Linked DNA regions of Homo sapiens: regions 1 and 3 are each linked to region 2. The links come from fine-mapping of genetic effects on gene expression. A gene starts in region 2. Each other region holds a variant in brackets. All regions are shown on one strand. Distances are between the middles of the regions.

What was found.
Region 1: its variant is fine-mapped to the expression of MYDGF in whole blood (TOPMed, PIP above 0.99).
Region 3: its variant is fine-mapped to the expression of MYDGF in whole blood (TOPMed, PIP 0.98).

The regions. Positions count from the first base shown.
Region 1 is chr19:4,639,836-4,648,102 of GRCh38, reverse strand. All of the region lies in intron 1 of TNFAIP8L1 (TNF alpha induced protein 8 like 1), which reads right to left. Among named protein-coding and RNA genes, the nearest start is that of TNFAIP8L1, 4.5 kb to the right of the region's middle. RefSeq lists an enhancer at 7,587-8,267. The variant G/T (reference allele first, on the strand shown) is at 4,366.
Region 2 is chr19:4,665,865-4,674,131 of GRCh38, reverse strand. It overlaps MYDGF (myeloid derived growth factor), which reads left to right and starts at 3,790. Exons shown (of 6, transcript NM_019107.4): 1 at 3,790-3,971; 2 at 5,487-5,537. The coding sequence starts at 3,798. RefSeq lists a silencer at 3,401-3,790.
Region 3 is chr19:4,699,689-4,707,688 of GRCh38, reverse strand. DPP9 (dipeptidyl peptidase 9) reads left to right here. Exons shown (of 22, transcript NM_139159.5): 5 at 1,719-1,831; 6 at 3,385-3,558; 7 at 3,635-3,803; 8 at 4,973-5,086; 9 at 5,534-5,662; 10 at 7,412-7,473. Among named protein-coding and RNA genes, the nearest start is that of DPP9, 20 kb to the left of the region's middle. RefSeq lists enhancers at 2,758-3,258, 3,259-3,759, 2,782-3,981. The variant C/G (reference allele first, on the strand shown) is at 4,961.

The sequences.
Region 1 (8,267 bases), 26 kb after region 2:
CAGCGACCTGTGCCTATTCGTCATTCCCACCTGGTACTGGCCAGGTTGCCTGCTTTGCAGAAGAGACCACAGAGGCACTGGGGATACAGCAGGCATCAAAACAGATCCCATCCCTGCCTTGCTAAGGCCCTGGCTTTCTAGACCCCAAGCTGCCTCCTCATTACAAAATCATCTGGGCCAGGCAAGGTGGCTCACACCTGTAATCCCAACACTTTAAGAGGCCAAGGCAGGAGGATTGCTTGAACTGGGAAGTTCAAGACCAGCCTGGGCAACATAGCGAGATCCCATCTCTACAAAAAAAAATTTTTTTTAATTAGCCAGGCATGGTGGCACGGGTCTGTGGTCCCAGGTACTCGGGAGGCTGAGAGGGGGAGAATCGCTTGAGCCCACGAGGTCAAGGCTGCAGTGAGCTATGATCACACCACTGCACTCCAGCCTGAGCAACAGAGCAAAACCCTGTCTCAAAAGGAAAAAAAAAAAAAAAAAAAAAAAAGCCAGGTGCACTGACTCACACCTGTAATCCCAGCACTTTGGGAAGCTGAGGTGGGCAGATCACCTGAGGTGAAGAGTTGAGATCAGCCTGGCCAACATGGTGAAACCTTATCTCTACTAAAAATACAAAAAAAATTAGCTGGGCATGGTGGCAGGCACCTGTAATCCCAGCTACTCTGGAGGCTGAGGCAGGAGGATCATTTGAACCCGGGAGGTGGAGGTTGCAGTGACAGTGAGCCGAGGTCTCCAGCCTGGGTGATAGAGCGAGACTCCGTCACAAAAAACAAAAAACAAAACAAAAAAACCCAGTCCGACGGCTCCTCAGACATCTAAACACACAGTTACCATAGGACCCAGCAATTCCACTTTGGGGGATCTACCCAAGAGAAACACAAGCATACACCACGCAAACACTTGTTTTGCACGTCACAGTTTACAGCGGCGTGACCCAGGGTAGCCTGCAAGTGGAAGCAACTCAAATGTCCGTATGTCCATTAATGGGTGAATGAATAAACAAAATGAGATCGGTCCAAACAATGGAATGTTCTCTAGCCATAAAAGGAACGAGGCTCACACACAAGCTCCAGCGTGGATGCACCTTGAGGACATCATTCCCAGTGACAGAAGCCAGACACACAAGGCCACAAAGTGTGTGATCCCACTTCTATGAAATGTTCAGGAAGGGCCGGGCACCGGCTCACGCCTGCAATCCCAGCACTTTGGGAGGCCGAGGCGGGCGGATCACAAGGTCAGGAGATCGAGACCATCCTGGCTAACACGGTGAAACCCCGTCTCTACTAAAAATACAAAAAATTAGCGGGGCGCGGTGGCGGGCACCTGTAATCCTGGCTACTCGGGAGGCTGAGGCAGGAGAATGGCGTGAACCCGGGAGGCGGAGCTTGCAGTGAGCCAAGATCACGTCACTGTACTCCAGCCTGGGTGACAGAGCGAGACTCCATCTCAAAAAAAAAAAAATGTTCAGGAGAGGCCTGTCCACAAGGGCAGAAAGCGGACTCGCGGGTGCTGGAAACTGGAAGAGGGGAAAATGGAAAGCGATTGCTAAATTGGGAACCAGGTTTTTTTGGGGTGAGTGGTAATGGAATGTTCTGGAATTAGAGATTCCAGAAATTTATGATGGTCACATAACTTTCTGGTTATAAATTGTACACTTTAAAACAATGATTGGCCAGGTGCGGTGGCTCATAACTGTAATCCCAGCAGTTTGGGAGGCAGAGGGAGGAGGATCAATTGAGGCCAGGAGTTCAAGACTAGCCTGGCCAACATAGTGAGACCCGGACTCAACTGAAAAAAAAAAAAAAAGTCGGCCGGGCGTGGTGGCGAGCACCTGTAATTCCAGCTACTCGGGAGACTGAGGCAGGAGAACCGCTTGAACCTGGGAGGCGGAGGTTGCAGGGAGTCGAGATTGTTCCACTGCACTCCAGCCTGGGTGCAAAAACTGTTCCCCTGCTGGAAGGAGGAGGTGCCGGTAACCAATAAATAGAAACAAACAAGTTAATTTCAGGAAGAGAGATATGGGCCACGGGGGTGGGGGATGAAGTTCAGGGTAACCAGGAGGGCCTCTCTAGGGAGAGGCTGGGCCAGTTGAACTGGGCCTGCAATGACAGGGTCTGCGGGAAGATGCTCCAGGCAAAGGGCACAGCCTGTGCAAAGGCCCTGGGGCAGGGCTGTGTCACGCTTGTTACAGGAACAGCCAGGAGGCCTCAGCCCTGTCCACAGCCTCTGTCCAGGTCCGTCCACAGCTCTGAGGTCTCCCTGCTGTGACCCTTGGCAGGCCCCATGCATGGGGGCAGCTTTCCCATCTGCAAAATGGGTGACCAGGCACCAACTCCCTGGCTCCCTTGACTCTTCCCCTGCTCCCTATATTCCTTTTTTTTTTTTTTTTTGAGACGGATCCTCCTGCCTCAGCCTCCCAAAGTGCTGGGACTACAGGTGTGAGCTACCACCCCTGGCTTAAATGTACTTTATTTAACTATAAGTTTATGTATGTATGTATGTTTGTATGTATTTTGAGATGGAGTCTTGCTCTGTCTCCCAGGCTGGAGTGCAGTGGCCAAATCTCAGCTCACTGCAACCTCTGCCTCCCGGATTCAAGCGATTCTCCTGCCTCAGCCTCAGCCTCCCAAGTAGCTAGGACTACAGGTGCATGCCACCACACCCAGCTGGTGTATTTGTATTTGTACAAAAATACAAATTTGTGTATTTTTAGTAGAGACGGGGTTTGGCCATGTCGGCCAGGCTGGTCTCTAACTCCCGGCCTCAAGTGATCTACTCGCCTCGGCCTCCCAAACTGCTGGGATTACAGGTGGGAGCCACCACGCCCAGCCTTAACTATAAGTTTATATTCTCCCACGTTAAATAATGGCTGCGTTTAACTACCAGATGGCAAAATTCCTGAAAACACAGGAGGTGGCTCTGGTGAGCTGGCTGCAATTATGTCACAAGTCCCTGCCGTCCCCACCCCTGTCCCATGAATTCTTCATGCACCTCACAGAGTGTCAATAATTGATGGATCTGCTCTGCAGGTGCACGCCAGCCGCTCCATCTGTCTTGTCTCAGCCCCGGCTGCACTCAGTCCGGGGGCCCAGGGGGGGCCTCAGGCCTCTTCCCGCCGAGGCCAGTGATCCCAGGCCTCATCCCACCGACTCCCAGGGTCCCACTGCACCAAGCCCTTTAAGACCCATGACTCACAGGCTGGGCGTGGTGGCTCATGCCTGTAATCCCAGCACTTTGGGAGGTCGAGGCGGGCAGATCACCTTAGGTCGGGAGTCCAAGACCAGCCTGGCCAACATGGTGAAACCCCATCTCTACTAAAAATACAAAAATTAGCCGTGTGTGGCACACGCCTGTAATCCCAGCTACTCGGGAGGCTGCGTCACGAGACTCGCATGAACCTGGGGGGCAGAGGTTGCAGTGAGCTCCACTTCATTCCAGCCTGAGAAACAGAGTGAGACTCTATCTCAAAAAAAAAAAAAAAAAAAAAAAAATCCATGACTCAGGACTTGCAAGCCGGTGTCCATTTTATTTTTATTTATTCATTTTTTTTTTAAGACAAGGTCTTACTCTGTTGCCCAGGCTGGAGTGCAGTGGTACCATTATAGCTCACTATAGCCTCGACCTCCTGGGCTCAAGTGATCCTCCCACCTCAGCCTCCTGAGTAGCTGGGACTACAGGTATGTGCCACCATGCCTGGTTAATTTTTTTTTTTTTTTTTTGGTAGACATGGCGTCTTGCTATGTTGCCCAGGCTAGTCTCGAACTCCTGGGCTCAAGTGATCCTCCCGCCTTGACCTCCCAAAGTGCTGGGATTGCAGGCGTGAGCTGCCACACTTGGCCAGTGTCCATTTTATTTTATTTTTATTTTATTTTTTTGAGACGGAGTTTCACTCTTGTTGCCCAGGCTGGAGTGCAATGGCATGATCTCAGCTCACTGCAACCTCTGCCTCCTGGGTTCAAGTGATTCTCCTGCCTCAGCCTCCCAAGTAGCTGGGATTACAGGCATGCGCCACCACGCCCGGTTAATTTTGTATTTTTAGTAGAGACGGGGTTTTCTCCATGTTGGTCAGGCTGGTCTCGAATTCCTGACCTCAGGTGATCCACCCGCCTCGGCCACCCAAAGTGCTGGGATTACAGGCATAAGCCACCGTGAACGGCCAATTTTATTATTTATTTATTTTTTGAGATGGAGTCTCGCTCTGTTGCGCGATCTCAGCCCACTGCAACCTCCACCTCTCCAGTTCAAGCAATTCTCCTGCCTCAGCCTCCCAAATAGCTGGGATTACAGGCACCTGCCACCATGCCTGGCTAAGTTTTGTATTTTTAGTAGAGATGGGGTTTTGCCATGTTGGCCAGGCTG[G/T]TCTCCTCCTGGGCTCAAGCGATCCTCCTGCTTCGGCCTCCCAGAATGCTAGGATTACAGGCATGAGCCGCCATACTTCGCCAGTGTCCATTTTAGTTATGGCAAAAGAGAGAGGGGAATCTGTTGGCCCAAGTTGGGGGTGACATCAGTTGTTCTCAAACTGGGTTCCCCAGCACCCTCAGGACCACCCCATGGATGGGCAGGGGCCAGCTGCCTGCTGGGTTGTGGCGGGGAGCCTGGACACTTTCCACTGTGGCCAGATTTCCACTGGAGAAAGGGTTCGAGGGCCAAACATGAATTATCAGCTACCCACAGCCCATGACTCTGCAGAGGAGGGGACAGGCTTGCCTCAGCCCAAGCAATAAATTATTAGAGTGCAGAGAAGCCTAGGATCACCTGGCAGGAGGTGCATCCAGCCCCTAAATGTGTCCCAATGCAACCCACTTTTTTTTTTTTTTTGAGACAGAGTCTCACTCTGTTGCCCAGGCTGGAGTGCAGCGGCGTGATCTCGGCTCACTGCAACCTCCGCCTCCTGGGTTCAGGTGATTCTCCTGCCTCAGCTTCCTGAGTAGCTGGTATTACAGACACGTGCCACCATGCCTGGGTAATTTTTGTATTTTTAGTAGAGATGGGGTTTCACCATGTTGGTCAGGCTGGTCTCCAACTCCTGACCTCAGGTGATCCACTTGCCTCAGCCTCCCAAAGTGCTGGGATTACATGAGCCACCCTGCCTGGCCTAACGCAACCCACTTCTTATCTCCCCCACAGCCTCCATCCTGGTCCCCTCGTCCCTCAGCACCATCTATCCCCATGCCCCCCGTCTGTCCTCCCTGTAGCAGCCAATGGGTGCCTGTGAGTACCTGAGTCAGGTTCCATCCTTCCCCTGCCCACCACCCTCCATGGCTCCCACCTCCCTTGGGGTCAAAGCCAAGTATTCCTGGCAGCCCATAAGATCCTGCGCACCCTGCCCTGTCCCCTCCCTGCCCTCCCCTCCTCCCTCTCTCCTCCTCCTCACTGCTCCAGCCCCACGGGCCTCCTTGCTGCTCCTCTACCATGCCAGGCGCCATCTTGCCCCAGGGCCTTTACACAACCTGTGCCCTCTGCCTGAGCTGCTCTTCTCCCAGGTCTCCACATGGCTGTTTCCTTCTTGTCATCCAGGTCTGGGTTTACATGGCCCCTCCTCAGGAAGCCCTCCCAGATCCCCCATCTATTTTATTTATTTTATGTGTATATTTTTAATTTTTTTTTTTTTTTTGAGATGGAGTCTCACACTCTGTCAACCCAGGCTGGAGAGCAGTGGTGCAATCTCGGCTCACTGCAACCTCTGCCTCTTGGGTTTAAGTGTTTCTCCTGCCTCAGCCTCCTGAGTAGCTGGATTACAGGCACCCACCACCACGCCCGCCTCATTTTTGTATTTTTAGTAGAGACAGGGTTTTGCCCTCTTGGCCAGGCTGGTCTCGAATTCCTGACCTCAGGTGATCCGGCCACCTCAGCCTCCCAAAGTGCTGGGATTACAGGCGTGAGCCACGGCGCCCAGCCAATTCTCTTCTTTTTCTTTGAGACAGGGTTTCACTCCTGTCGCCCAGGCTGAAGTGCAGTGGCATGAGCTCGGCTCACTGCAGCCTCAACCTCCCTGGGCTCAGGTGATCCTCCCACCTCAGCCTCCAGAGTGGCTGGGACTACAGGCCTGCGACACCACACCTGGCTAATTTTTTTTTCTTTGTTTTAAGTAGAGACAGGGTTTCACCATGTTGCCCAGGCTGGGAAATTCTCTAGATGGACCTGCAAGTTTTTGGTTATAAGGAAACTGAGTCACAGAGGGTCAGGAGCTTGCCTGTTTATAAAGCAGTGATGTGGCAGAATCAGAATTTGAACCCAGCCTTTAACCTAGTGCAATCCTTTCCTCATCCTAGTCAATGGCACATTTGGGGTTCAAGTCTCGTCTCTCCCAGAGCCCACCCCAGAGGGGAAGGATCGAAGCCTTAGGAAGCTTCTAGAAGTACTGTGTCCTGTAATCCCCTCCTCGGGCTTTTAACAATATCTTGTTGAATCTCCCCCACCCCTCAAAGCACCCTCCCTCCCCACAGTTATCTCAGCCCCACAAGAAAAAGGAGATGACCAGCCCCATTGGACAGATGGGGAAACTGAGGCCTAGAAGCTGGGGATTTACAAGATCCCAAGAACTCTGCCAGAGGTCCCTGCGTCAAAGCTCGAGCGGGTGTGATTCCAGGGAGGTCATCTGCTGAGGGGTGTCGGGAGATGCTGGGAAGGGGCAGGCATGCTGTGGAACTGGGCCGTTCCTGCCTCTCGCTCTGCCTCCTTGCCCTGCTCCCCGTCTGTAACACCTGAGCTGTACCTGGGCAAGTGTGAGTCATTTTTTAGCGTTGACGTCTCTCTGGGAGGAGTGTTCCCCTGTCAACGGCTGGAGTTTTGTCCTCAAGGCACCCTTTCGTGGCCCCATTGGACAGACAGGGACACTGAGGCCTCCGGAACCCACCATACTGAATTGTCAAGCAATCAAAAGACCCCTCACCCACCTGGGCTGACCCCTGGGGGAACGGGGATGAGGAAACTGAGGCTCTGGGGGCACCTGACCGTCGGTCCAAGGCCACACAGTGGGAGGGGCCGTACCGCGGGGCCTCAGACCTGCACCCGTCTGCAGAGCCACCCCACCATTGGAGCAGGGTTCAAGTCCCCCCCCCGGCCCCATATTCCCTGCAGGGGTCCAGGCACTCACCCACCACCTGTATCCCAGGCTGCTCCAGCCTCTGGCCAGTGCCCGATTCACCCAGGTGTTTGTGTGGCTGGAGACAGCCCTTTGTTCACGGTTTCCATAGGTACAGCGTCCCTGAGCGGCCCCTCCTCTGCCCCTCCCAGCCCTTGCCTGTGCAGGTCCTGGGTCCGGCCCATCCAGGGAGCTTGTTATGTTTCAAAGTTGGCGCCCTCGGACCTGCCGTAGTGGCAGAGGGCACAGCCCATGCAAAGGCCCTGAGAGAGGACCTCGCCTGGGGTGTTGGAGAAACAGGAGGAGGCCAGTGTGACTGGGGCAGAGCCACAGCGAGAGTCAGGCAGGTTATGAGCAGGGCCTGTATTCCTGCATCTGATCCCCCAGCAGCCCTCAACTTGGGGAGTTACGACCCACTCCTGTTTTACAGATGAGGAAACTGAGGCTCCGCAGAATTGAAAAACTGGTTCAAGATATCATGCGGGTGGCAGAGCTCAAACCTAGATTGGTCCAAGCTCCGCCACCACTGGGCTGGCCCCCCTGGGGCCTCCCAAGGCGTTCATCGCCTCCAGCTGAGCTGGGACTGGCTCAGGAAATAAACTCTGGCGGCCTGTTTACACCTGGGGCTGCTCCTCCACCAGCCCTTCCCCCCTCCATAGAGAAGGTGCTGGGAAATGTGAGGATGCAGAGAAAACAGATTCTGTCCTGCCTCTGTCCCCACTTCCCTGGACAAACATTGGAAGCATTGGCCTCTTTCTAGGCCTTAGTTTCCCATCCCAGGAAATGGGCCTAGTTCGACTTCACAGAAAAGGCCAGGAGGCGGCAGGTGTCCTTCAGATCACCTGCCAATTACCTTAGCAGCGACGGTCCCAGTTCACAGCTGGCAAAACTGAGGCCAAGTCCCCACAGGCCACTTGGGAGCTCATTAGGGGCCAGTCTGGGTGGGCCCGGGCTGGCCTAGGCCTGGCTCCCCGCCACCGATGCCTGGACCGATGCCTGGTTTAGCTAGAAGCTACAGTCATGCCCACCTCCGCACGGCTGGCCCAGCTGCCCACCGCCTGGAATGCCCTCAGGGTTCTGGAATCTGGCCTGAGCACCTGCGGCCCTACAGTTAAAGGGGGCAGAGTCCACTAGAGTCCACATGGGGGATGGGGGTGCTGGTCCCAGAGCAGAGCCC
Region 2 (8,267 bases):
AGATCACTTGAACCCAGGAGTTTGAGACCAGCCTGGGCGATATGGTGAAACCCCATCTCGACTAAAAATTGAAGAATTAGCCCAGCGCAATGGTGCACGCCTGTAGTCCCAGCTACTCAGGAGGCTGCAGTGGGAGGATCACTTGAGCCCTGGAGGAGGAGGAGGTTGCAGTGAGCTGAGGAGGTTTCTCCAGCCTGGGCAACAGAGTGAGACCCTGTCTCACACAGACACACACACACACAAAAAGGAGGCCAGGCACAGTGGCTCACACCTATAATGCCAGCACTTTGGGAGGCCAAGGTGGGTGAATCATTTGAGCACAGGAGTTTGAGACTAGCCACAGCAACATGGCATAAACCCCATCACTACAAAAAAATAATAATAATAATAGCTGGGTGAGTGTTGCATGCCTTGTAATCCCAGCTACTTGGGAGGCTGAGTGGGAGGATCATTTGAGCCCAGGAGGTTAAGGCTGTAGGGAGCTGAAACTACCACTGCATTTCAGCCTGGGCGACAGAGCAAGACCTTGTCTCAAATTTAAAAAAAAAAATAAATAAATAATCTAATATTTGTGTGATCGAATCTTGTCCTTTAGGACTGACAGATTTCATATCATGATTAGTGGGATCCGTGGAATAATTTGTTGTTTGCTCCTCTGTCACCCAGGCAGGAATGCAGTGGTATAATCACAGCTTACTGCAACCTCGACCTCCTGGGCTCAAGTGATCCTCCCACCTTGGCCTCCCAAAGTGTTGAGATTACAAGAGCCACTGTGTCCAGCCTTGTTTTCTTTTCTTTTTCTTTCTTTCCTTTTTTTTTTTTTTTTTTTGGACACAGGGTTTCGCTCTGTCACCCAGGCTGGAGTGCAGTGGTGTAATCTCAGCTCACTGCAACCTCTGCTTCCATGGCTCAAGTCATCCTCTGGCCTCAGCCTCCCAAGTAAGTGGGACTACAGGCACAAGCCATCATGCCCAGCTAATGTTTTTGTATTTTTTATAGGGACGGTGTCTTGCCATCTTGCCCAGGCAGTTTTTAAACTCCTGAGCTCAAAGTGATCTGCCTCCCAAAGTACTGGGGCCAGCCTTGTTTTTTCTTTTAATCCTTTTAGTGTGATGATTTGTGGTGGGTGGGTGAAACTTGGGGCCGAAACCTTTCTGGAAAGAACACACACACGCATGCACACGCATACGCACAACCTGCCTGGGTTCCGTAGCAGACTCCCAACAGCTCACAACTGAAATTCCTTGTTAGCCGCAGAGCTCGGCCATGCATCGAATCCTTCATGGTGACAGGCTGAAAGTTGAACACCGTGGTAAGGTAATGGGGACTCCATCAGTGGAACCGTGCTGTGTCACTCACCTAAGGAACAGGGCTGCTCTGTGCTTGTCCAGTTTATGGAGACAGTGTCTCATGGGTCCAGAACAGACAGCTGCATGGAGGAAGAGATTTGTTTGTTTATTTCTTTATTTATTAAGACGGAGTCTTGCTCTGGGACCCAGGCTGGAGTGCAGTGGCATGATCTCAGCTCACCGTAACCTATGCCTCCTGGGTTCAAAAGATTCTCCTGCCCCAGCCTCCCAGGTAGCTGGGATTACAGGCGCCCACCACCATGTCCGGCTATCTTTAAAAAATAATCTTAAAATATCTTTAAATATATATATATATAAGTATATATATGAATATATGAATATATATAAGTATATATGTGAATATATGAATATATATAAGTATATATATGAATATATGAATATATATAAGTATATATATGAATATATGAATATAAGTATATATATGAATATATGAATATAAGTATATATATGAATATATGAATATAAGTATATATATATGAATATATTAATATATATATTCATATATATGAATATATATTCATATATATGAATATATGAATATATATAAGTATATATGAATATATGAATATATATATAAGTATATATGAATATATGAATATATATTCATATATATGAATATATGAATATATATTCATATATATGAATATATAAGTATATATGAATATATGAATATATAAGTATATATGAATATATGAATATATATTCACATATGTGAATATATGAATATATATTCACATATGTGAATATATGAATATATATATTCACATATGTGAATATATGAATATATATATTCACATATGTGAATATATGAATATATATATTCACATATGTGAATATATGAATATATATATTCACATATGTGAATATATGAATATATATATAGGAATGGGGTCTCACTATGTTGCCCAGAATGGTCTAGAACTCCTGAGGTCAAGCAATCCACCCACCTTGGCCTCCCGAAGGGTTGGAATTACAGGCATGAAGTATCACGCCCGGCCAATAAATTTCCTAACGCAAGCAGGTATCCCAATTTAGAACAGGCTGCCACTGCAGAAAGGCAACTGGCTTGGACTTCTGTCATTGGCAGAGGAGTCAGCCTCCACGGGGATCCTTCTCACCTCCCTGGGGCTCACCACCCTCCGTAGCTATGGAGTAGAGTGATTTAATTCCTCAAAGGGTGAATTATAACCCATCTTAGGAGTCATCTATGACGTTTTCTCTCTGGATTCTGTTTTTTGCCAGTTGGGAAGGACTAGAAACACCAGCTTAATTATTGACCCCCCAGGCCTGGCCACTGGTGTTTTCTTGAAATGTTAAGCCATTTGTAACCAAAGAATGACTTCCTTCTCTAGTTGAAAACCTGGGATCTAATGATAGCAATAGCTACAATATATAATTCTCAGTTCATTCGTCCCGGTGTGGGAACTTAATTCCCTCACTTACTCCTCCCAACAACTCCTTGAGGTAGGGATTATTTTCTTTTTAACTTTTTATTTTGAAATAATTTTTGCCTCCCAGAAAATCTGCAGAAACTGTAGGGTTTCCTAATACGCTTCATCCAACTCCCCCTAATGTGAACATCGTCTGTAACCCCTAGGACAAGCCAGGTTATCAAAGCCAGGAAGTGAACACCCACATAATCCTATTAACAAATACACAGACTGATCGAGCGTGATGACTCACACCTGTAATCCCAGCACTTTGGAAGGCCGAGGCAGGCGGATCACTTGGGGTCAGGAGCTCAAGACCAGCCTGGCCAACATGGTGAAAACCTGTCTCTACTAAAAATACAAAAATTAGCCAGGGGTGGTGGTGAACACCTGTAGTCCCAGCTACTCGGGAGGCTGAGGCAGGTGCATCACTTGAACCTGGGAGGCGGAGAGTGCAGTGAGCCGAGATCGCGCCACTGCCCTCCAGCCTGGGCAACAAGAGGGAAACAAAAGCAAGCATCCTGCTTCTCATCCTACTTTCCCTCTGCTAATTTTGAATATCGATGCACACACATCTTGGCTGCAACGATTATGAGAAGTTCGCCTAATGGTGACCTTCGATTTCCCTCACTCCCTGTACATCTCCTAACTGAAAGAGCTGCAGTCAGTCACACGGCTGGTGAGGGACCCTGAGACCCCAAAACGAACTCCATTACCACCTGAGGGACCCTCCAAGGATCGCCGGGCTACGCAGGGTCCCTAGGGTACGAGGCCGCCCCCTCGGCGGCCCCGCCCCCTCGGCGGCCCCGCCCCCTCGGCAAAAGTCCCGCCCCCTCGACAAAGTCCCGCCCCCAAGATGGTGGCCCCGGGCGGTGGACAGGGCGGGGCGTGCCGGGTCACGTGGACAGCCGACGCCGACGTGGCCTCCGGCGGACGCTCCACGTGTCCCTCGCCGCGCCCCGTCTACCCGCCCCTGCCCTGAGGACCCTAGTCCAACATGGCGGCGCCCAGCGGAGGGTGGAACGGCGTCGGCGCGAGCTTGTGGGCCGCGCTGCTCCTAGGGGCCGTGGCGCTGAGGCCGGCGGAGGCGGTGTCCGAGCCCACGACGGTGGCGTTTGACGTGCGGCCCGGCGGCGTCGTGCATTCCTTCTCCCATAACGTGGGCCCGGGGGTACGTGCCACCGCCGTCCCGGATATTTGAGTGCTGGCAGGCCCGGGGAGGGGGCGCGGAGCATTGGGGGCGGGGCCCGAGGAGGGGGCGCGGACCGCGGAGGTGGGTACTGAAGAAGGGGTGCGGATTGTTAGGGTCGGAGGCTGAGTGGGGGGCGCGGGACCGTGAGGCCGGGGTCATCACTGGGGCAGGACTGAACTCATAGGGAGCGGGGCCTTGTGGGCCCCGGCGGCGTTGAGGGGGCGTGATCACCTGTCACCTGTCGCCTGCCTGGAGTGTCCAGGCACCCCTGCCCTCCAGACGCAGAGGTGGGGAGGGGTCAGTGATGGGAGCGGCAGGAGGCTAAAGGGCATCTGCCCTCCTGGGCCTGAAGGAAATCAGTCGCTGCAGCTCCGAAGAGGGAGGAAGTGCTCCTTCCTTCCATTGCACAAGGTCCCCCCTCACCGAGGGTGTGAGGCCGGGCCCTCAGCCCTGTACTCAGCTTGTCGGCAAAGTCCTTTCCCCTCTCAGCCTCCCTTTCCCCGCCTGTAATAACAGTATCTTTACTGTTTTTTGACTATTTCTTTTTAGACTTGCGTGCAGTGGCGGGATCTCGGCTCACTGCATCCTTAGCCTTCTGGGTTCAAGCAATTCTTCTGCCTCAGCCTCCCCAGTACCTGGGATTACAGACGTGTGCCACCACACCCGGATAATTGTTGTTGTTGTTGTTTGAGATGGAGCCTCACTCTGTCGCCCAGGCTGGAGTGCAGTGGCGCGATCTTGGCTCACTGCAACCTCTGCCTCCCAGGTTCATGCCATTCTCCTGCCGCAGCCTCCCAAGTAGCTGGGACTACTAATCTTTGTATTTTTAGTACAGATGGGATTTCACCATGTTAGCCAGGCTGGTCTTGAACTCCTGACCGCAGGTGACCCGCCCACCTCGGCCTCCCAAAGTGATGGGATTACAGGCGTGAGCCACTGTGCCAGGCCAGTTTGTTGACTACTTCCTTATAGTTAGGTGTGATGCCAAGTCCTTTATATGTTAGGCCCAAGTTACAGATGAGAAAATGCTTCACATAAAAAAGAGAAACAGAGAGAAACTAGAGGCTCAGAAAAGTTTTCACTTGTCCAGGTCCCATGGCAAAACCCATCTCTACAAAAATACGAAAAATTAGCCAGGTGTGGTAGCAGGTGCCTGTAATCCCAAGTACTCAGGAGGCTGAGGCAGGAGAATCGTTTGAACCCGGGAGGCAGAAGTTGCAGTGAGCTGAGATCATCCCACTTCAGCCTGGGCGACAGAACAAGACTCTGCTTCAAAAAAAAAAAAAAAAATTAGTCGGGTGTGGTGGTTGCGTACCTATTGTCTCAGTTACTTGAGAGGCTGAGGCAAGAGGATTACTCAAACCTGGGAGTTCGAGGCTGCAGTGAGCTGTCATTGTGCCCCTGCACTCCAGCTTGGGTGACAGCAAGACCCCGTCTCTTAAACAAAATAAAAATTTCCTTCTACCAAACCTTTTTTTTCCTTCCATTCTCTAGGACAAATATACGTGTATGTTCACTTACGCCTCTCAAGGAGGGACCAATGAGGTGAGTTGTTCAAAATTCCCTCTAGCTTACTGTGACAGTATCCATTGTTGTAGGGAGATGTTCTGTAGCAGACAGCAGGGTTGGGTCTCACCTATATCACCTTACACTCATTGAATGACTCTTCCTAAACCAATAAAAAGGGAGAGTATTGGCATTAAACAGTGACGACAGATTCTGCTGTTATTATTCTACAGAGCAAGCAAATGTCTGGACAGAAGGAGGGAGGGGAGATGGGAGTCTGCCATCCCCATGAGCATCTGTTGGGATGTTGTATTTTATGTGCAGTGCAACAAGTTATCACAGCTTAGGGGCTTAAAACAGCACCCATTTATTATCTCATAGCTTTGTAGGTCAGAAGTCTGGGTCAGCTCAGTTGTGTGCTTCATAAAACCAAACTCAAGGTATTTTGGGAGGCTGAGGCGGGCAGATCACCTGAGGTCAAAGTTCGAGACCAGCCTGGCCAACATGGCAAAACCTCATCTCTACTAAAAATACAAAAATTAGCTGGGCATGGTGGCACATGCCTGTAGTCCCAGCTACTCAGGAGGCTGAGGCAGGAGAATCACTTGAACCCAGGAGACGGAGGTTGCAGTGAGCCAAGATTGTGCCACTGCACTCCAGCCTGGGCAACAGAGCGAGACTCTGTCTCAAAAAATAAATAATAAATAAATAAAGGTATCACAGGCAAGGCATGGTGGCTCATGCCCCATCTCTACAGAAAATAAAAAAATTAGCCCAGCGTGGTGGCGTGCACCTGTGGTTCCAGCTACTTGGGAGACTGAGGTGGGAGGATCGCTTGAGCCCAGGAGGTCAAGGCTGTAGTGAGCCGTGATTGTGCTACTGGGCAACAGAGCAAGACCCTGTCTCAAAAAAAAAAAAAGTCTCTGGGCTGGGAGAAGAATCCTCTCCTTCAAGCTCTTAGTTGGCAGAATTCAGTTACTTGTGGTTCAGGGACCAAGGTCCCGGTTTCCTTGCTGGCTGTTGTCTCCAGCTGGTGGCAGAAGAGCCAGTAAAGATGATTTGGGCCAGGCACAGTGGCTCATGCCTATAATCCCAGCACTTTGGGAGGCCAAGGCTGGCGAATCACCTGAAGTCAGGAGCTCCAGACCAGCCTGGCCAACATGGTGAAACCCCGTCTCTACTAAAACTACAAAAATTAGCCGGGCGAGCCAGGCGCACTGGCTCATGCCTGTAATCCCAGCACTTTGGGAGGCCGAGGCGGGTGGATCACAAGGTCAGGAGATCGAGACCATCCTGGCTAACACGGTGAAACCCCGTCTCTACTAAAAATACAAAAAATTAGCCGGGTGTTTTGGTGGGCACCTGTAGTCCCAGCTACTGGGGAGGCTGAGGCAGGAGAATGGCGTGAACCCGGGAGGCGGAGCTTGCAGCGAGCCAAGATCGCGCCACTGCACTCCATCCTGGGCGACAGAGCGAGACTCTGTCTCAAAAAAAAAAAAAAAAAAAAAAAAAGGGTGATTTGAAGCACATGGACACATACGCCACTGCTGCCCTTGAGGGAACTGCAGGGCAGGGAATACACGCGGCCTCTAGGAGCTGAGAACAGCCTCTGGCTGGCAGCAAGGAAATGAAGACTTCAGTCCCGCAACCAAGAGGAACTGAAATCTGCCACAACCACAAGAGCTTGGAAGAGGACCTTGAGCTACCAGTAAGAGCCTAGCCCGGTCAACACCTTGAGATGGGTTTCGCCATGTTGGCCAGGCTGATCTTGAACTGCTGACCTCAAATGATCAGCCTGCCTCGGCCTCCCAAAGTGCTGGGATTACAGGTGTGAGCCACCGGTGCCCGGCCTCCTAGAGATTTTTCTGTATCCTATGTAAAGCGCTTCAGTTGCATGGACGTGTGGAGTTGACAATCCCGTACTAATGGATTGAGGGTTACTTCCAACCCAGTCCGTGAATAACCTTGGCCAGGGTTCATTGTACAAGTGCAGTTACATCTGTGGGAAAACCACCCAGAAGTGGGATTCATGGGTCCATTTTCTTAAAAGTAAAACTGGGCTGGGCGCGGTGGCTCACGCCTGTAATCCCAGCACTTTGAGAGGCCAAGGCAGGTGGATCGCCTGAGGTTGGGAGTTTGAGACCAGCCTTGCTAAGATGGTGAAACCCCATCTCTACTGAAAATACAAAAGTTAGCAGGGCGTGGTGGCACGCGCCTGTAATCCCAGCTACTCAGGAGGCTGAGGCAGGAGAATCGCTTGAACCCACGAGGCAGAGGTTGCAGTGAGCTGAGATCGCACCACTGCACTCCAGCCTGGGTGACAGAGCGAGACTCCATCTCAAAAAAAAAAAAAAAAGTAAAACTGTATGTTTTGAGATCATGGTAGATTTACATTCACTTGTAAGAAATCCTACAGAGAGATCCAAGTACCGTTTAACCAGGTTCCCCGGTGGTAACATCGTGCAAGAGGCCAGTCATTTTAGAGATGGGGTCTCGCTATGTTGCCCAGGCTGGTCTCGAACTCTTGGGTTCAAGTGATCATCCCACGTTGGCCTCCCAAAGTGCTGGGATTACAGGCATGAGCCACCATGCCCAGCCTGCATTTTCCATTTTGCTTGTACCTGTTGCAGCTCCACCGACAACCTGGAATAGTCTTGGTTTTCACACCCATATGGTGTGTTAGCAGACAGGAGGGCTTTTGCCCTTCTGACCTGGGAGAAAAAGGTATCTCACGATAGTTCAGCTTGTGTTTATTTATTTTTCATAAAT
Region 3 (8,000 bases), 34 kb before region 2:
GTGCCACTGCACTCCAGTCTGGGCGACAGAGCGAGACTGTGTCTCAGAAAAAAAAAAAAAAAAAAAAAAAAAAAGCGAGTATGAGGAGGTCCTGAAAAGAGGACAGGACAGCACCAATCCGAGGCTTCGTCCTGGAGAAACTCAGGGTTGAAAGTAGAGCAAGGAGGGGCCAGGGCACCGGGCTGTCTGTGACTTGTCGTTAGTCATGTCACGTTTGTGGGCTACTGGACAGCTTTATGCTTGGAGGAGCCCTGTCCCGGTTTTTCAGTGGTGTCGCATGGAGAGGGGAAACCGAGGCTTCCCAGGGGTTACCATCCTGCTTCTGCCATTCCCTTTTCTAATGACAATTGTACTGTCATCCAGCAGATCTAAGACATGACCATTTGGAAAATACACAGTTATTTTATTTGCCACTAAGGACCTGATTGCGCCTTCCGCAGTAAGACCCATCCCAAGCCCAGAGACATGCGTAGGTGGAAAGCCGCGGCTTACTGATGAAATACGCTGATTTCACAGAGGGTCACACACATTGTGCCGAGAGCTTTACGTTTCTTACCTCATGTAATCCACCCAAAACCCTCGCTTGGCAGCTCTCACTACCGTCATTTTCTACAGAAGCTTCGATTAAATCAGTGGTTTGAGGTCGGGGTGATTCTGCCCCTGCAGGGGACACTGGGAGATGCCTGGGGATATGTGTGGTTGTCACGACTGTGGGGTGCCCCTGGCATGGAGTGGGCGGAGGACAGGGATGCTGCTCAGCGCCTCGCAGTGGTCAGGACAGCCCCACCCCGGAGGATGGTCCAGGCCCGAATGTAATTAGGGGCGAGGTTGGGAAATACTGGACCAGGTGCACGCTTCCCCATTCCCTTTTTTGAGACAAAATCTTGCTCTGTTACCCAGGCTGGACTACAGTGGCGCAATCTCGGCTCACTGCAACCTCTGCCTCCCAGGTTCAAGTGATTCTCCTGCCTCAGCCTGACGAGTAGCTGGGATTACAGGCGCGTGCCACCACGCCCGGCTAATTTTTGTGTTTTTAGTAGAGATGGGGTTTCACCATGTTGTCCAGTCTGGTCTCGAACTCCTGACCTCAAGTCATCTGCTTGCCTCGGCCTCCCAAAGTGCTGGGATGACAGGCGTGAGCCATGTCGCCTGGCCCTCATTCCTTTTTGATGGTTTTGCCCTCCCTCTAATCCTATATTAAATTCTTGTCGTCTGCAAAAGCCTTGATAAAGGGCCTTGGAGAGCCGAACCCAACCTGTTGAGAGTTGGATGTTTGTTTCTGACTGCCCTTCTTGTTCTCTTGTGTGCGATTTATTTTTCTTTCTTTTTTCTTTTATTTTATTCTTTTTTTTTTTTTTGAGACGGGGCCTTGCTATGTTGCCCAGGCTGGTCTCAAACTCCTGGGCTCAGGCAGTCCTCTCGCCTCGGCCTCCCAAAGTGCTGGGATTACAAACAAGAGCCACCATGCCCAGCCTCTTGTGTGCTGTTTCTTCGGTAATTCAGGCCGTGAGATTCAGCAGAAATATCTCAGGTGGAAGGCCCTACTGCCTACTTAAGCAAACCCAGGATCCATAGCTTTCCGGGGAGGGCTGTCCCGCCGGCGGCCTGGCAGAATGTTCTAGAAGCAGAGGGAACCAGCTGGGCCCAGCTGCAGGCTGAGGGCGTCTCCCCATCCTGAGCCAGGGTACCCGTTCTGGGTGTTTCCTTTCTCCCTTTAGGAATGCCATATGGCAGCCGAGAGAACTCCCTCCTCTACTCTGAGATTCCCAAGAAGGTCCGGAAAGAGGCTCTGCTGCTCCTGTCCTGGAAGCAGATGCTGGATCATTTCCAGGTAAGCTGTGCTATTAGGCGTGGGCCCTACCGTGGGCGAGGAGGTGGCAAAGGCCAGCCCCACAGGCCATACATGCCTTCGGTCACCTCTCTGCCCCACCGGCTGTGAGTTCCCACAAACCCTCCGTCCTGTGGACTCTGGCGGGTGAGCCTTCCCTCCTCCCCCTGACCACCTGTACTCAAGCGACAGAGAAACTCTTACCAAAAGCATCTCTTCCTTTTAACGGCATCACCAAAGATTGGGAATTAACTTGGCTTGAGGCCCTTTTAGAGAGACTGGTTAATCATCAATCTCATCCAGTGTTGGCTCTCTGGGGATAGTTGAGGGAGGAAAAATGCCTTTTGCATTGATTGGCGTGTTTTTGTGTTTGATGATTGGGAGGCCGAGGCAAGAGGATTGCTTGAGCCCAAGAATTTGAGACCAGACTGGGGAACACAGCAAGAGCCTGTCTCTACAAAAAATAAAATTAGCCAGGCCTGGTGGCACTCGCCTTGTAGTTCCAGCTAATTGGTAGGCTGAGATGGGAGGATCTCTTGAACCCAGGAGGGCAAGGCTACAGTGAGCCGTGATCTCACCATTGCACTCCAGCCTGGGAGACAGCGAATCCCAGTCTCTAAAATAGTAACAATATAGCAATAAAAATAACATAACATTATAACATAGTAACAACATAAACATAACAATGTAACAATAATGATATCTAACAGTGGCTGAGATCGTGACACTCCCACTTTCTCCACCACTGGTTCACTGGCCCTCACTTTGGCCTGTCTCTGAGTCCCCAAGCCAGTGTCCTTGTGTTTACACTGCTTTCCACAGAGTGTAGGGGTAATTTTGCTTTTGATTCTGCTTTTTTTTTTGAGACAAAGTCTCACTCTGTCACTCAGGCTATAGTGCAGTGGCGCAATCTCGGCTCACTGCAACCTCTGCCTCCCGGTTCAAGTGATTCTTCTGCCTCAGCGTCCCAAGTAGCTGGGACTACAGGCGCGTGCCACCACACCCGGCTAATTTTTGTATTTTTAGTAGAGACGGGGTTTCACCATATTGGCCAGGCTGGTCTCGAATTTCTGACCTCGTGATCTGCCCACCTCGGCCTCCCAAAGTGCTGGGATTACGAAATTGAAAGCTCTTGATGGGAAGGGATTGTGAATAGGGTAGGAGGGTGGGGAGTCTGTAAGAATGGCACTAGGGACCCGGAGAGAGTACTCCGGTGGTGTGGGGCAGGGACAGCCCCTCCCAGGGGCCCCCATCTGCTATGGAGAGGGTCTGTGGGGAGGGAACTCAGGAAGTGAGGAGGCTTCTGGCCCCAGAGTCTCCCCTGCCACCTCCTAGGACACTCAGCCAGTCCTGCAGGGCCAGGTTCGCTGGCAATCTTTGGCCACCCACTGTGTCAAGGGCTCCGGCAGCCAATTCTGCCCAGTACAGGAAGTTCTCTCTGGCGAGGCCCGAAGTCAGATTCCCTGGGAATGCCCCAGCCCGAGGATCTCTGCCCTGGCCAGCGGGAGATCCTCTTTGCCCACTGACGCTGCCCCCTGTCCCCTGTATGTTTCCAGGCCACGCCCCACCATGGGGTCTACTCTCGGGAGGAGGAGCTGCTGAGGGAGCGGAAACGCCTGGGGGTCTTCGGCATCACCTCCTACGACTTCCACAGCGAGAGTGGCCTCTTCCTCTTCCAGGCCAGCAACAGCCTCTTCCACTGCCGCGACGGCGGCAAGAACGGCTTCATGGTGAGCCCTGGCCCTGGCTGTGTGCGGGGGTGGCGTGGAGGGCCCCTCCCCCTGAGCTGGGCGTCTCTGTCCTCAGGTGTCCCCTATGAAACCGCTGGAAATCAAGACCCAGTGCTCAGGGCCCCGGATGGACCCCAAAATCTGCCCTGCCGACCCTGCCTTCTTCTCCTTCATCAATAACAGCGACCTGTGGGTGGCCAACATCGAGACAGGCGAGGAGCGGCGGCTGACCTTCTGCCACCAAGGTGGGGCCAGCCCCTCCTGTGCACGGCCACCATAGCCACCTGGCCAGCTTCCAGAAAGGCCCCATTGCCCCCACAGCCAGGGTCTTCCTGCACACACCCCTCACAAGCCACCCTCCCGTGCATACCTTCTGTAGCCTACCATGTCTCCCGGGAGGTCCTGGCGTCCCTGCCGCTCTGTAGTTTTCTTTCTTTCTTTCTTTCTTTTTTTTTTTTTTGAGAGAGTCTCACCCATGTGGGAGTGCAGTTGCCCAGGCGGGAGCGCAGGCGGGAGTGCCCAGGTGGACTGCAGTGGTATGATCTCGGCTCACTGCAACTTCCGCCTCTTGGGTTCAAGTGATTCTCCTGCCTCAGCCTCCCGAGTAGCTGGGATTACAGGTGCCCGCCACCACGCCTGGCTAATTTTTTTTTTTTTTTTGTATTTTTAGTTGTGACGAGGTTTCCCCATGTTGGCCAGGCTGCTCTTGAGCTCCTGACCTCAAATGATCTACCTGCCTCGGCCTCCCAAGGTCCTGAGATTACAGGCATGAGCTACCGCACCCTGCCGCTCTGTGGTTTTCTGCTGCAGGCGTCAGCCCAGCCACGGTGCTCTGGACCCTCTTCCAGGTGCCCCTGGGCATTTCTGCCCCTGCACACCTTCCCCTCCACTCTGCCTGTCCAGCCCCATCAAGTCAAGGCCACATCTCACCTGCTTCCTGCGTGTTCTCTCCACTCCCTTGCTCATCAGAAGTGACCCCATCCTTCCTTGTCTTGGTTTCAAGTCACTGATCGCTGCCTCTCCGTCCCATAAGCCCGGGCCCCACTTTCCAAACCTGGCCACTCGGCGATGTCCAGAGACGTTTTTAGACGGCACACTTGGGCGGGGGTGCTCCTGGCTTGCCATGGGGTGAGTGGAGGCCAGGGACACTGCTCAGCACCCTGCTGTGCCCTGGACGGCCCCACCCCAGAGACCAAGAGGGCCCCAGTGTCCACAGTGTGGGGTGGAGCAACCCTGCTTGAAAGCAGTCGGCTCCGAGCTCTCCCTCCCTCTCCCTCCCTCTCCCTCCCCCTCTCCTTCCCTTTCCTTCCCTCCTTCTCTCTCCCTCTCTCTCATGCTCTCCTTGAGCCCCTGGCTGTCCCCAGTGTTAGCAGGCTGCTCACCCCTTGTTGATGCTCTCCGT[C/G]CCTCCCCCTAGGTTTATCCAATGTCCTGGATGACCCCAAGTCTGCGGGTGTGGCCACCTTCGTCATACAGGAAGAGTTCGACCGCTTCACTGGGTACTGGTGGTGCCCCACAGCCTCCTGGGAAGGTAGGTCCCTTCCATTTTTCAACATGCTCCCGGGCGTGCTTTTCCTCCTGGAATCACAGGCTGTGTCCTTCCTGCGCCTTACTCCTTTCACCTCAAACCACCTCCACAGTCTGTCAATACCAACACCTAGAGAGTTCCTTAACGACTGTAGACATCGCTGTTGCCCTAAGAGGGGACACAGTTCAGCCCGTTACACCCCACGTGGCCACTTCCCATGCCAGTTCATGCTGGGAGTAGCCCTGCTCTGCTTCCCACTGCACAGGGGAGGAAACTGAAGCCCAGAGAGTTGGGACTGGCATAAGGTCTAGCGAATGGCAGAGCCGGGGTTCTGGTTTCAGAGCCCTCGGTGCCCATCTTCAGGCCCCGGTGCTGCAGGGGGCGGGGGGTGCTGATGGCAGGGACTCTGCCTCTGGCACCCTCAGCAGTTTTTCCACCACCCCACCCAAGGTTCAGAGGGCCTCAAGACGCTGCGAATCCTGTATGAGGAAGTCGATGAGTCCGAGGTGGAGGTCATTCACGTCCCCTCTCCTGCGCTAGAAGAAAGGAAGACGGACTCGTATCGGTACCCCAGGACAGGTGAGTGCCCGGTACATGTGAGGGGCTGGGCCGGGGATCTGAGGCCCCTGGGGCATGGCTGGTGAGGTGCACTGTCCCCCAGGCCCTCTGAGCTGCATGTGTGTGCTCTGGGCATCTATGGGGGTGTAGAAGGAAGGCTTCTGCCCTGCAGGGGCCGCCCCTTTCTCCTGGCTTACCATGGCCACCGGATCATATTGCTCAGAAGTGAGCAAGCTGTCTCTGGAAGGGATGAGGGCACAGGTATCTCAGGCTTCCAGGGCCAGACGAAGGCAGGCTCTCTTGCAACTGCCCCACCCTGCTGCTGGAGCACAGAAGTGGCACGTGCAGGAATGGGCGTAGCCATGTGCCAAGGAAACTTGACTGAAGTTTGGATTACAAATAATTCACCTTGAGATACATATGATTTTCATATTAGCGAAAATGTCACTCTTGTTTTGTTTGTTTGTTTTCTTAACCGTCTCAGAACGAAAGAAGGATTTTCAGCCATACAAAAACAGAAGGCAGGCTGGATTTGGCCCTCACACTACAGTGGTGTTTGTTTGTTTGTTTGTTTGTTTTTGAGACAAGGTTTCACCTTGTGGCTCAGGCAGGAGTACAGTGGTGCAATCACAGCTCACTGCAGCCTCCAACTCCTAGGCTCAAGTGATCCTCCCACCTCTGCCTCCCAGGTAGCTGGGACTACAGGTGTGTGCCACCATGCCCAGCTAATATTTAAATTTTCTGTAGAGATGGAGTCTTGCTTTGTTGCCCAGGCTGGTTTCGAACTCCTGGCCTCAAGTGGTCCTCTCGCCTCGGCCTCCCAAAATGCTGAGATTACAGACGTGAGCCACACGCCCGGCCACTCCCAATTCTTAAACATCTTTCCAATTATTTAAAAATATCTCTGGAGCCAAACAGAACACACGTGCAGCCCAGATTCCGCGTTCAGGCCTTGGGTTTGCAACCCCCATGGGACCATATAAGAGCATCGTTATTGCCCATACTCCGCGAGTGCCTGCTCTGTGCCGTGCTAGATGGAAGCTTCCTGTACGGTCTTTCCAACTCCCACTGCAAATGAGCTAAGTCAGTCTTTTCCCCCTCGTATGACAGATGAGAAAACAGGCTCAGAGATGTCACCTGCCCTGGAGGCCAGAGCCACGAGGGCTGGAGTTGAGTTTCTCGTAGGTCTAGCCAAAAAAATAAGCATTCTCCGCTCTGCTGTGGCCCGCGCCCTCTTTCGGAGCCTGAACTAAGTCCCACTCTTCAGAAGCCTCTTGGGTCCCTTATTCTGTCGCCATTGGCCTCCGGAGGGCGCAGGTCTGGCTGTCACACGGGCTCCCTGGTTTTGCATGGGACACACCCCACTTGTCACGTTGTCAGTTTTACTGTGATGCCTCGGGCTTCACCGTCTGCTCTGGAGCTCTCCCAAGGCAGGGATGGCATCTTCCTGGTATCTGCGGCCCCTACAAGCCCCAGCTCTCAGCACAGGGTGTGGCCCGTGTTTTTAAATGAGAAAGCCAGATGCCACATCACTGTTGGGAATGCGATCCAGGCCCAAAGTCAGAAGGTCCCCACCTGAGGGTGTCATGCCTGTTCCAGCAGGACGATGTGCCTACAGACAGACCGTGGGACACCTGGCTTCTCCTGCCTCCCCCACTCCAATTGTACACCTCTCTGTGGACGTCACCCCACAGCCCAGGCCCCCCGTGCCGGCTCTCGGCACACACGGGTGATGCCTGCCTGGTGTTCACCTCACTTCGGTTTTTGCAGGCAGCAAGAATCCCAAGATTGCCTTGAAACTGGCTGAGTTCCAGACTGACAGCCAGGGCAAGGTAAGGGGGCCTGCTGCATACCAGATAATCTACTAGATGATGCGGGGAAGGGCCGGGTAGGCAGCTGGGTGGATGGGCAGGTCACTCACCTCCCTCTCGGGGGCACTCCCCAGGCCCCAGCCCTGCCGCCCGGTCCGCCTAGCCACAGGCCTTCCCTGTGTGTCTCTGGACCTGTGCCTAGAATGCGGCGTGGCGAGCTGGCCTCCCTGCCTCACAGAGTGGGTCCTGAGACTGGAGGCCACGCCGCGGTAAGGAACAAGCACCGGGCAGGGGCCCTGCGAGGACAGGCGCGGCAGGTGCTCCCAGGCCACCTCGGGAGTGGGTGACGTGTGGATCCAGAGCTGCCCTCTCTCCAAGTTTCCAGAACAGAGAACTCCGTGGGGCAGATGGCTGGGGGACCCCAACTTCGGACGGGCTGTTTCCTCCAGCGTTTCAGGCAGATCCTCAGGTCCGTTCACCGGACCCGTCAGCTACTGTGGGGAGGAGAGTGTTCTGGATCCCCATCCCCCCGACCTCCTCAGATCTAG